2 separate regions of the Homo sapiens genome follow, and region 1 is linked to region 2. Evidence: fine-mapped QTL for protein levels in blood plasma. Region 2 holds a variant in brackets. A gene starts in the other region. All regions are shown on their forward strands.

Region 1 (5,373 bases), not on the chromosome of region 2:
GGGAGCACTCATGGAGACCATGGGTGTCCAGGGGAGGAAAGGTGCCTGAGGGGGCCAGCCCTTCAGGCCCGGCGGATTTTCATCTCAGTGCGTTTGAGGGAGTAGTAGAAGCCCTTCCACTGGGCCCAGTTGATGCCATTGGCATAAGAGAGGTGGGAGCCACCTAGGTAGAAGCCATTGAGGTTGGCAAAGTGGCAGCTGCGGAACCAGAAGGCTCCTGAGGAGAGAGCTGCGCAGTTCTGCACAAAGAGGTCCTGGTCCCGGTCGAAGGTAGAGAACTTCTGGCCACTGTGGTAGGACAGGGAGTCACCTGGCAGAGGAGAGAAGGGTTGGGGCTGCTGAGGCAGGGAACTGAGCCCCGAGCTGGCCGGGAGAGGGTGACAATGACGACTGTGAGAGATATCACGTGGCAGCCTGGCGGGATGGGGGCACCCTCCCTGAGCCAGATGTTGGGTTGATGTGCTTCTGCAATGAAGAGAAACAGCTGCTCCACCACAGAGTTGCCTGGAGCAGGGCCAGGATGGCTGCTCCCCAGGGCTGAGGCCCAAGCTGGTTTGAGCTTGTTTGGAGCCAGCTGTGGCCCTTCCAGATCCAGAAGGGTTGAAGGAGGGGCCTGAAGGAGGTTGGGGCTGACTGGGCAGGGCCAGCCCTGCCTTCTTTCCCCTCACAGCCCCTCCCAAAGCTAACAGCGGGTTATACCTGCCCCGCCATCCTCAAAGCCTGCCACAAAGAGGGTGTAGCCATCCTCCTCTGCGCTGACCGCGTTCGGGGAGATGGAGAAGTCAGCGTACTTGGCATAGGCCGTGTTGTTCTCAAAGTCCTCCAAGTCCACTCGCAGCTCATACTTCTGCTTCAGTGTCAGGAGGTGCATGTTCTGCAGCCCTGGGGAGGAGGGGCAGCTGGTCAACAAGGACCTGGCCCTGGGGCAGCCCCTCAGCCCACCTGGTCCCTGCCTTACCCAGCCAGTACTCTCCATCAGCACGGCCGAAGCCCAGCTTGTAGTCATTCCAGCCGCGGAAGAAACTTACTGAGCCATTGAATCTCTTCTGGAAAACCTGGAGCAGAGAAGATGAGACTGGATCATCAAGGGTCCAATGGGCAAGGTTCTGGTCCTGCCCTGCCCACCTCAAGCATGGACCCTGTGATGCTGTGGCCAGTTTGTTAAAGGACTGGGTTGGGGGTGGGGAGGGTGGTGGGAGTGGGGTTGCTAAAACAACGTCCACATTGGCACCAGGCCCCCTGTGGAGCAGTTGCCAGCACCCACCTGGGCTCTTCATACCCAGTTTCGTATAGAGGCAGGAAAGAGGCTAAGAGGGAGGCGTTCTAGAGTTCGAGTGCCTAGCTGTGGGATCTGGGCAAGTTACTTCACCTCTCTGGGCTTTAGTTCCTCACTACTTCCCAGGATTATTGTGAGGCTTATGTGCATTAACCTACCTCAGCTGGGCGCGGTGGCTCACGCCTGTTATCTCAGCACTTTGGGAGGCTGAGGCGGGCGGATCACCTGAGGTCAGGAGTTCAAGGCCAGCTTGGCCAACATGGTGAAACCTCATCTCTACTAAAAATAAAAAAATTAGCTGGGCATGGTGGCACATGCCTGTAATCCCAGCTACTCGGGAGCCTGAGGCAGGAGAATCTTTTGAACCTGGGAGGTGGAGTTTCCAGCAGTGAGCTGAGATGGAGCCACTGCACTCAAGCCTGGATGACAGAGTGAGGCTCCGCCTCAAAACAAACAAACAAACACCTACCTCAGGCACTTAGAATTAAGCGTTGGCAGCTGCTCAGAAGCTGTGCTGTGGGTATCATTATCCCCATTTTAAAGATGAAGAAACTGAGGTTCGCATATGTGAAGCCCAGGGTCACAGGGCTGGGATTAGAACCAGCTCTGGCCTCTGTTCCCTCCTCCCACTCACCGTCCACTTCCCGCCCTCGGTGGTCATGTCACAGAAGACGGGCACAGGCACACTGGGGCCCGAGGGGTAGATGAGGTACACGCCGTCTGACTGGTAGCCCTGGGCATAGATGTCGTCACAGTCCAGGGGTTGCTGAAGGCAAAACCTCTCCAGAGCTGGGGGTAGGGACATGGGGACAGTGAGGAGAGTGGGACTATGGCATCACTGACACCTCAGCACCCCAAGGTTTGCCTCAGTCCCTGGGGCTGGGGGACTTTGACACAAGGAGTCATGGAAGATTTCTTCAAGGGAGATGAGCAATGCTTATGTCATCCATCTGCCCCATTTTGTAAAGGAGGAACCTGAGTCCTGCAGAGCTGGGGCTCGGCCCTGACAGTCTGTTCTGACAGTCCAGCCTCTTCTTGCACAACCTGTGGGCCAGGCCGCGTCTGTGAGTGTGGGGCTGCTTACCATCTCCTCGGATCCCGGAGACCTGGGGGGCACACGGGGGCGTGGAGAGAAGCAGCAGCAGCGGCAGGGCCAGGAGTGCCTGGCGATGGGCAGACAGGGTCAGCACAGCCCCTTCCCAGCTCCAGAGATCCCCTGTTCTCTTTGCATTTGCCCCCACCATGCATGCACATACTGCCCTTGCCTGAATCCCTCTCCTGCTATTTGGCCCCTCTTCCCTGCCCCCCCACCCCGCCCGCCAAGTAACCCCACTCTCTGGGACGCTGTGTACCCTCATAGCTTACGAGTTTCAAGAGAACTCCTTGTGCCTTCATAGTGCCCTCTGTGGCCAGGGGCCTCTGGAGTGGGCTCAGTTCCCCCATGCTATGAGTCCCCCGACCCTGGGCCCCGTACCTTCATGCTGTCAGTTCTGCTCAGAGTGGCTGGGTGTCTGCGGCCCCAGACTGCAACCGCCCAGAGTTATGCGCTGGGCCCCCGCCAGCCGCCCCAGCCCCGCCCCCCTTCCCGTAGCTGCAGAACCCCCCTCTCCCCACCCCAGACAACCAGCATCAGTTTACACTATCAGGGGGCTGGGAGGTGGGGCTGGAGCCAGGGGACCACCTGTGTCTCATTAGTCCTGTCGGGCAAAGTACTGCAGACGTTAACTCCCTGCTGGCTCCAACTGTTCCCTGGATCCCACTCCATCCGCTATCCGCCATCTGCCACCCACCCTGCTAGACCTGTGGGCCCCCTGGCGCCCCCAGGCAGCCCCAGCCCGCCGCAGCCTGCCCCCTACTTCCTGATGGGCCCCCCTGCAGATGTCTGTTTATTCTTTCCCCTCCTTCCCTGGCCTGTGTTTCATCAGCCATTGAGGGGGAGGGCTGAGGGAGAGTGGGGGTGTCATATGCCTGGCTTCTGGGGACGGGAGGCCTGCTCTGGGGGAGCAGAAGGCTGAGGGGACAGTTTCAGAGCTCCTGATGTGGGAGCCTGGCTGGGGCTGGTGGGGGGACAGAGGCAGCAGTTTCTTGGCAGGCCTGGGACATTTCTGAGCCATGAGCACAAGGCTGCTGGCGTCCAACTGCTCTGTCTGCCCCAGCTCAGGCCAGGGCCCCTCTCCAGTCCCCCTCCCCAGCCCCCCTCACTCTGGCCACCTCAGGCCCACTCTTTTCCCCTCCCACAGTTCCCTGGCCCATCTGGCTCACATGCAATAGGTATGGGACCTCTTTTGTTTCTCCTCACTCCACCCCTCCTTTCTTCTTCCAAACCCTTCACTTTGGCTCCCACACCTCCCAGATTCATCTGAATCTCCCTACTTCTGGGCTCTCTCCTCCTATCCTTGGCACACTACCAGGAGAGTTGTTCTAGATGGCCTCTCAGATTATGTCACCCTGCTTAAAGCCTCATGGCTCCCTATTGCCTCAGGGCTGAGGCTAGGTTTCTCACCTTGGACATGAAAGGAATTTCAAGTCTGTCTCTGGCCTACCTTGAGGACCTTGTCCCTTATTGCTGTGACTCATAAACTACAGTGCAGCCACTCCAGACTTTTCACCATGGAGGTCCCCACTCTTTTGTGCTGCTCCTTGTGGTGCCCGCTCATCTGCCTCCTTTTGTTGGCCATAAGGGCCAGTGAGCAGGGTGTGTGTCTCATTTCTGCATGCTCAGTGCCCATCACAGAGCCTGGCACAGAGTAGGCTTGATATGTACATGCACAGTCACTTACGTATTTATATCTATATATAGATAAGATACTAGAGTCAGGGCCTTGCCCTGTTGCCCAAGTGCAATCATAGCTCACTGCAGCCTCAAGCTCCTGGGCTCAAGTGATCCTCCCACCTCAGCCTCCTAAGGAGCTAGGACTACAGGTGTGCCACCACACCCAGCTAATTTTTTAATTTTTTTGTAGAGATGGGGGGGGTCTCCCTATGTTGCCCAGGCTGGTCTTGAACTGGCCTCAAATGTTCTTCCCACCTTAGTCTCCCAAGAAGCTGGGACTACAGGGCCAGCACACCTGGCTCACAGATATCTTTTGAGCGCTGTGTGCTATAGGCTATGCTGGCTGCTGAGGATACAGTATCTGCCCCACAAGGAGTGGCAAGCACAGGTTTTGGACAGTGAATTGCAAATGTAAGGTGTATTACAAAAGGACATTTGTGTTGAATGGATGAACAGATGAAATATTCAAAGGCAAAGTGATGAGGCAGCTCTGGCTTAGGTCCCATCTCTCCACTCCTGAGTCAATAGATAAGCCCCTTGGCAAAGCCCCAGTTGGCCTCCCTGACTTGGTTCTGTGATTGCCTCTATTCATAGTTGTGTCTTGTGTCAGGCTACCTCAGTTCAAATCTAGATTCTGTTGCCTGTTAGCTGGGTGACCTTGCAAAAATTACCTAGTCTCTCTGTGCCTTGGTTTCCTCCTCTGTAAAATGAGGATAGTCATAGTATCTACTTCATAGGGGTGTGGTAAGGATTAAGTAATACATATCAAGTTCCTAAAACAGTGCCTACAAATGGCAGCTATTTAGTAAATATTAGCTATCGTCATCGTCATCATAAACATCATGATTCTCATATGAATGGGTTGTCTTCAACACAGCTTGTATGCTTGCCTGTGGAAGAGACAGTTGGCTGGCTCTCAATACTCGTTCTTCCCTTAGTCCTCAGTAGTAAGATCCTGATTTTTATCTGGGCTCATTGTCCAGCCTCCCTTGTAGCTAGGTGAGGTCACACATCTGAATTTTGGCCAACAAGATGCCAACAGGTATGTTGTAAAGGTAGGTGGCTTGTCCCTCTTCATCCTGCCCTCTGTCCTGCTGGATGTGATGGCTGGAGCTCTAGCTGCCACCTTGGACAGTGGGGATGAGGAAGATGAGGCCTCATCAGGGAATGGCAGAGGAGGAACTGGCAAAGCCTCTCACGACTTTGTGGAGTCGGTACAAAAACAGCCCTGGACTGCCCTCCTCTAGGCCTTTTTTATGCAGGAGAGAAAGAAACTTCTATGTATTTTAAGTGTCTGTTGTTTTTTTTTCTGTTACACACAGCT
Region 2 (5,373 bases):
ATGAGATCTGCCCTGATAAATAACAAGGTATTGTACAACCCTCCCAAAAATAAGAGAAAAAGAGAAAACCCATGGCACTATGTAAAGTAAGCACACTTTGTCATTAGTAAATAGCTCAGGCATGCCTGGGGAATGTTCCTTTGCCAAAAATAGCAATCAATCATAATTAGTAAACAGGTGTGCCAATAAAAAGAATTTACATGATAAGTTAACAAGGATCAGGAAAGTAAGTTAATTTCCTGAAGGAGTTGTTTGTTTCTGATCAAATAAATTGATACCTGTTAGCATTCACTGCCACCTTATCTTAAGGGGAAAGAACTCTACTGGTGTCATCTGACCAGCCATTTAAAAATTGGAATCTAAAGTGATTCCTTAGTGGGGCAACAAGGATGGTTGCTGATGTACTGTGTGGTCTAGTAGGAGAAGTGGGGCAATATGAGAAGTGGAGGAAAAACCCGACTATGTCTTCCGTGGCATATTTACTCTTATTTTACTTGGTGCTAAATCAAATGAAACAAGCCCTTGTAACAGCTGTTATTAATTGCCTTTAAAAATCTGTCCTGTTTTTTCCCAGGTACTTAAAATACAAGTGCCAGTAAGTGGTTCTTATGTATTTTTGGCGGGGGGGAATTTATTTTCCTTTTCTTCTGATATTTTAAAAATCCATTGATCTTTCAAGATGAACCAAGGTTTTTAAAAATAATTATAGCAGGCCGGGCCTGGTGGCTCACGCCTGTAATCCCAGCACTTTGGGAGGCCGAGGTGGGCAGATCATGAGGTCAGGAGATCGAGACCATCCTGGCTGACACAGTGAAACCCAGCCTCTACTAAAAATACAAAACATTAGCCAAGCGTGGTGGTGGGCACCTGTAGTCCCAGCTACTCGGGAGGCTGAGGCAGGAGAATGGCGTGAACCAGGGAGGCAGAGCTTACAGTGAGCTGAGATCGCACCACTGCACTCCAGCCTAGGTGACAGAGCGAGACTCCGTCTCATAAAAAAAAAAAAAAAAAGAATTATAGTAAACACTTCATTCTTTTCTTTTTGTCCCACCCATCCCTGCCCAACTAGCACTTCATTCTTTATAAAACTTTCTATAATGCTTTATTTGAATGTTAATATTATGTGCTTTCTAAAAATGTTGTGAATTACCAAACTTATGGATTATCACTAGGTGATTAGGCATACATTAGTCTTTATCAGAATAAAATGAAATTTCATTTAAAAAAAAGAAAACTACCAATATAGAAATTCTTGAGTATGATTCACATTTAACTGCTGGCACTATAATTTCTAAATTTTTGATTTAGAATGTACATAGTTCTCATGTTTTAGGTAATAGGTAATAGAGTTTATTTTTTTTGAGACAGAGTCTTGCTCTGTCACCCAGGCTAGAGTGCAGTAGCGTAATCTCAGCTCACTGCAACCTCCGCCTCCTAGGTTCAAACAATTCTCCTGCCTCAGCCTCCCCTGCCGCTGGGATTACAGGTGCGTGGCACCATGCCCAGCTAATTTTTATATTTTTAGTAGAGATGAGTTTTCACCACTCACCACGTTGGCCAGGCTGGTCTGGTACTCCTGACCTCAGGTGATCCACCCACCTCAGCCTCCTAAAGTGCTGTGATTACAGGCGTGAGCCACCATGCCCAAGCTAAAGTTTAAATTTTCCTTAAAAAAAAAAAAGTGTCCAAGACCTAAAAGGGCTGAAACCAAAAAAACTCTTAGAAGAAAATATAAAAATAAATCTTCATGACTTCAGATTTGGCAGTGCGGACCATGGGGAGTGACTGCTAACAGGTGCAGGGCTTCTTGGGGCGTAATGAAAATGTTCTAATATCGATTGTGGTAATGACTGTACAATGTTGTAAACACATTAAAAACCACTGAATTATACACTTTAGATGAGTGAATTGTTATGTGTGATTTATATTTCAAAAGGTTGTTTAAAAAATTCTATAACATAAGCATCTTGATACAGTTAATGAGACACTCACCTCTCTATCAAATTCATCCTCCTCCTCCAAAAGATCATACACCTGCTCTAAAAGCTGAACTCCCAGGCCACGAATTACATCAGTTCTCAAGACTTCAACTAGTCTCCTGATCTTTTCAGAACCTGGCATAATAGCTAAAAGGCAACAACAAAGACAAAGGGAAAAATAAACACTTTTACCACTATAGCAAGAACACTGCAATTTTTTAAAATTTTGTATTTTATTTTATTTATTTATTTTATTTTTGAGACGGAGTCTTGCTCTGTCGCCCAGGCTGGAGTGCAGTGGCACGATCTCAGCTCACTGCAAGCTCCACCCCCTAGGTTCATGCCATTCTCCTGCCTCAGCCTCCCGACTATTTGGGACTACAGGGGCCCACCACCACACCCAGCTAATTTTTTGTATTTTTAGTAGACACAGGGTTTCACTGTGTTAGCCAGGATGGTCTTGATCTCCTGACCTCGTGACCCACCCACCTCAGCCTCCCAAAGTGCTGGGATTACAGGCATGAGCCACTGCACCCGGCCTATTTTTTTTTTTTAAGTGACAGGGTCTTGCACTGTCATAGGGATGTAGTGCAGTGTGACCATAGCTCACTATAGCCTCTAATTCCTGGGCTCAAGCAATCACCCTGCCTCAGCCTTCCAAGTAACCAGAACTACAGGAATGCACTACCATGTCCAACTAATTCTTAAATTTTTTGCAGTGATGGGGTCTATGTTGTCCCGGTTGGTCTTGAACTCCTGGCCTCAAGCAATCCTCCCACCTTGGCCTCCCAAAGCAATGAGATTACAGGCATGATGATACCACACCAAGCCTTTTTTTTTTTTTTTTGGTATTTTATTTTATTATTTTATTTTTATTTCATTTCATCTGATTTTTTGAGACAGGATCTTGCTCTGTCGCTCAGGCTGGAGTGCAGTGGCATGCTCATGGCTCACTGCAGCCTCAACCTCCTGGGTTCAAGAAATCCTCTTACCTCAGCCGCCTGAGTAGCTGG[G/A]ACTACAGGCATGAGCCACTATGCCTGGCTAATTTTTGTATTTTTTGTAGACACAAGTTTTCATCATGTTGCCCAGGCTGGTCTCAAACTCTTGGACTCAAGCAATCTGCCCTCCTCAGCCTCCCAAAGTATAGGCATGAGCCACCGTACCCAGCAGGGCTGTTTTTTTAAAAATCTTGTTATACTGACATTCTTTTTTCCCTCTGACAAGAGTTTGGTTTAATGACTTAAAATTTACATATGAACTTAAGCTTCACTACCATCTCTTAAACCTAAAAAACACCACAACTGTCTAACTTGAAGAAAAGTCACATGAAAAACCACAAACATTTATCTATTTATTTTTAAAAATTAATTTTCATGTAACTTTTCAGGAATACCTCTGTTGCAAAACACAGGATATACCTTTTATGGAGATATGCAAATGAAATAATTTTAAAAACACAAAAAAATTTATAGGCATTAGTTCCTTGTTTTGACACAGTTCTCCAATAAACACATGCTCTCCAGTTTGCTGTAAAAGAATAAACTAGGCCAGGCATGGTGGCTCACACCTGTAATCCCAACACTTTGGGAGGCCAAGGTGGGAGGATCACCTTAAGTCAGGAGTTCAATACCAGCCTGGCCAAATGGTGAAACCCCGCCTCTACCAAAAATACAAAAATTACCCGGGCATGGTGGTGCATGCCTGTAGTCCCAGCTACTTGGGAGGCTGAAGCAGGAGAATCGCTTGAACCCGGGAGGCAAAGGTTGCAGTGAGCCAAGATCACACTACTGCACTCCAGCCTGGGTGACAGAGTGAGACTCCGTCTAAAAAACAAAAAATAATAATAAGCTGATCACCTGAAGGTAGCTCTTTAAAATGGATTTCCTCTGCCTCTTCTGCAACCTTCCCATGAAGTATCAGTGTGTCCCGATATTTCCGATGAAGTTTGAATTCTGACACTGGGTTTGCTACCGGGACATCTTCACAGCTCTCTTTAGAATCCAGTTTCAGGGTCTGAGTCATCAATTGTACCAAGGCATTAATTTCATTTGTCTGACCTTTCCTGGGGGAAAAAAATATCCCTTTGTTATTTAATTGGCTTCATGAGAATTTTTCATTAAAAAATTACGTGCAAAACGACCTTTCGGGAATTATCCTTTGAAATGTCCAAGTAAGTTCCTACAGACTGACCTGACCCTTCCACAAATAACAACTATAAACTCTAGAAAAAATACAAAACTCAACAACGTAAAGGGAATGCAGAATAAACAAAATCTGCAGGCAGATCTTGGAGAAGAGTCAACACCTTTAAGCCTAAGAGCAGGCCATAGGCAGATCAAAGTACAAGAGAACTCACAATCTTGTGGGCCTACAGAAAGGACAGAGTTCAGAACAACCACTGTCACTAGAAAGTGAGACAGGAACCTTGGAGACAGTCTAAAAGAAACAGCCCCAGATTCTGTGTACAAATTCTGCCTATTTCAAAGTAACTTAACTATACTCAAGTACAAAGCTCAAGAATATTTAAAGAAACACAAAATACCAGCTTCCAATGAGGTAAAATTCAGTGTCTAGCATCCCATCAAAAATAACCAGATGGGCAAAGAAGCAGGAAAATATCATACATTTGTGAAGAGAAAGAAATCAGTTAATAGAAACATATCCAAAAGTGACACGACTGATAGAATTAATAAATGAGGACATTAAAATGGGTAGTATAAATATCTTCCATATGGCCAAGGTAGAAGAAAACATGAACATGTTAAAGAGAGACACAAAGACATTAAAAAAAGACCCAAATCAAATTTCTAGAAATGAAAGATACAATATATTAAATACACGGGATAGGATTAACAGATTAGACACTGCAGAAGAAAAGATTAATGAACTCAAAGACATAGCAATAGAATCTATGAAATGTGAAACAGAAAAAAAGTAAAAACAGGCCAGGTGCAGTGGCTCATGCCTGTAATACCAGCAGTCTGGGAGGCCGAGGTGGGCGGATCACCTGAGGTCAGGAGTTCGAGACCAGCCTTGCCAATATGGTGAAACCCAGTCTCTACCAAAAATACAAAAATGTAGCTGGGCGAGTGCCTGTAATCCCAGCTACTCGGCGGGGCTGAGACAGGAGAATACCTTGAACTCAGGAGGCAGAGGTTGCAGTGAGCCAAAATCATGCCACTGCACTCCAGTCTAGATGACAGAGTTAGACTCTGTCTCAAAAAATAAATAAATAAAATAAAATATATTTTTAAAAAGTAAAAATAAACAGAGCATCAGTGAGCTGTGGCACATATTTAAGGAGCCTAATATACATGTAATTGGAATCCCTAAGAGGGCAGGAAGAAGTCCAAAAAAAAAATGTGAAGAAATAATGGCCAGGCGGGGCGTGGTG

Alleles and levels. Positions count from the first base shown, and alleles are read on the strand shown. Strength reflects both the effect of a copy and how common the allele is.
In carriers of allele A in region 2, the plasma level of the protein whose gene starts at base 2,791 in region 1 tends to be lower than with G alone (weak association).

What was found. A credible set is the group of variants that fine-mapping cannot tell apart. PIP is the posterior inclusion probability: the model's chance that the variant is causal. Protein levels are from antibody-based Olink assays in UK Biobank. Linkage for the fine-mapping came from a reference panel and not from the study's own genotypes, which makes the PIPs less certain.
Region 1: MFAP4 starts here. The variant in region 2 is the best candidate, but not a certain one, in a credible set for the plasma level of the MFAP4 protein (UK Biobank, PIP 0.53).

Annotation. Positions count from the first base shown.
Region 1 is chr17:19,384,400-19,389,772 of GRCh38, forward strand. MFAP4 (microfibril associated protein 4) reads right to left here and starts at 2,791. Exons shown (of 6, transcript NM_002404.3): 1 at 2,751-2,791; 2 at 2,361-2,439; 3 at 1,911-2,065; 4 at 959-1,055; 5 at 700-882; 6 at 1-310. The coding sequence starts at 2,756. The coding sequence ends at 63. RefSeq lists enhancers at 1,079-1,624, 1,625-2,170, 2,171-2,716.
Region 2 is chr3:52,735,594-52,740,966 of GRCh38, forward strand. It overlaps NEK4 (NIMA related kinase 4), which reads right to left. Exons shown (of 16, transcript NM_003157.6): 14 at 3,836-4,041; 15 at 1,993-2,126. It also overlaps the pseudogene LOC100499399. Among named protein-coding and RNA genes, the nearest start is that of SPCS1, 32 kb to the left of the region's middle. The variant G/A (reference allele first, on the strand shown) is at 2,993.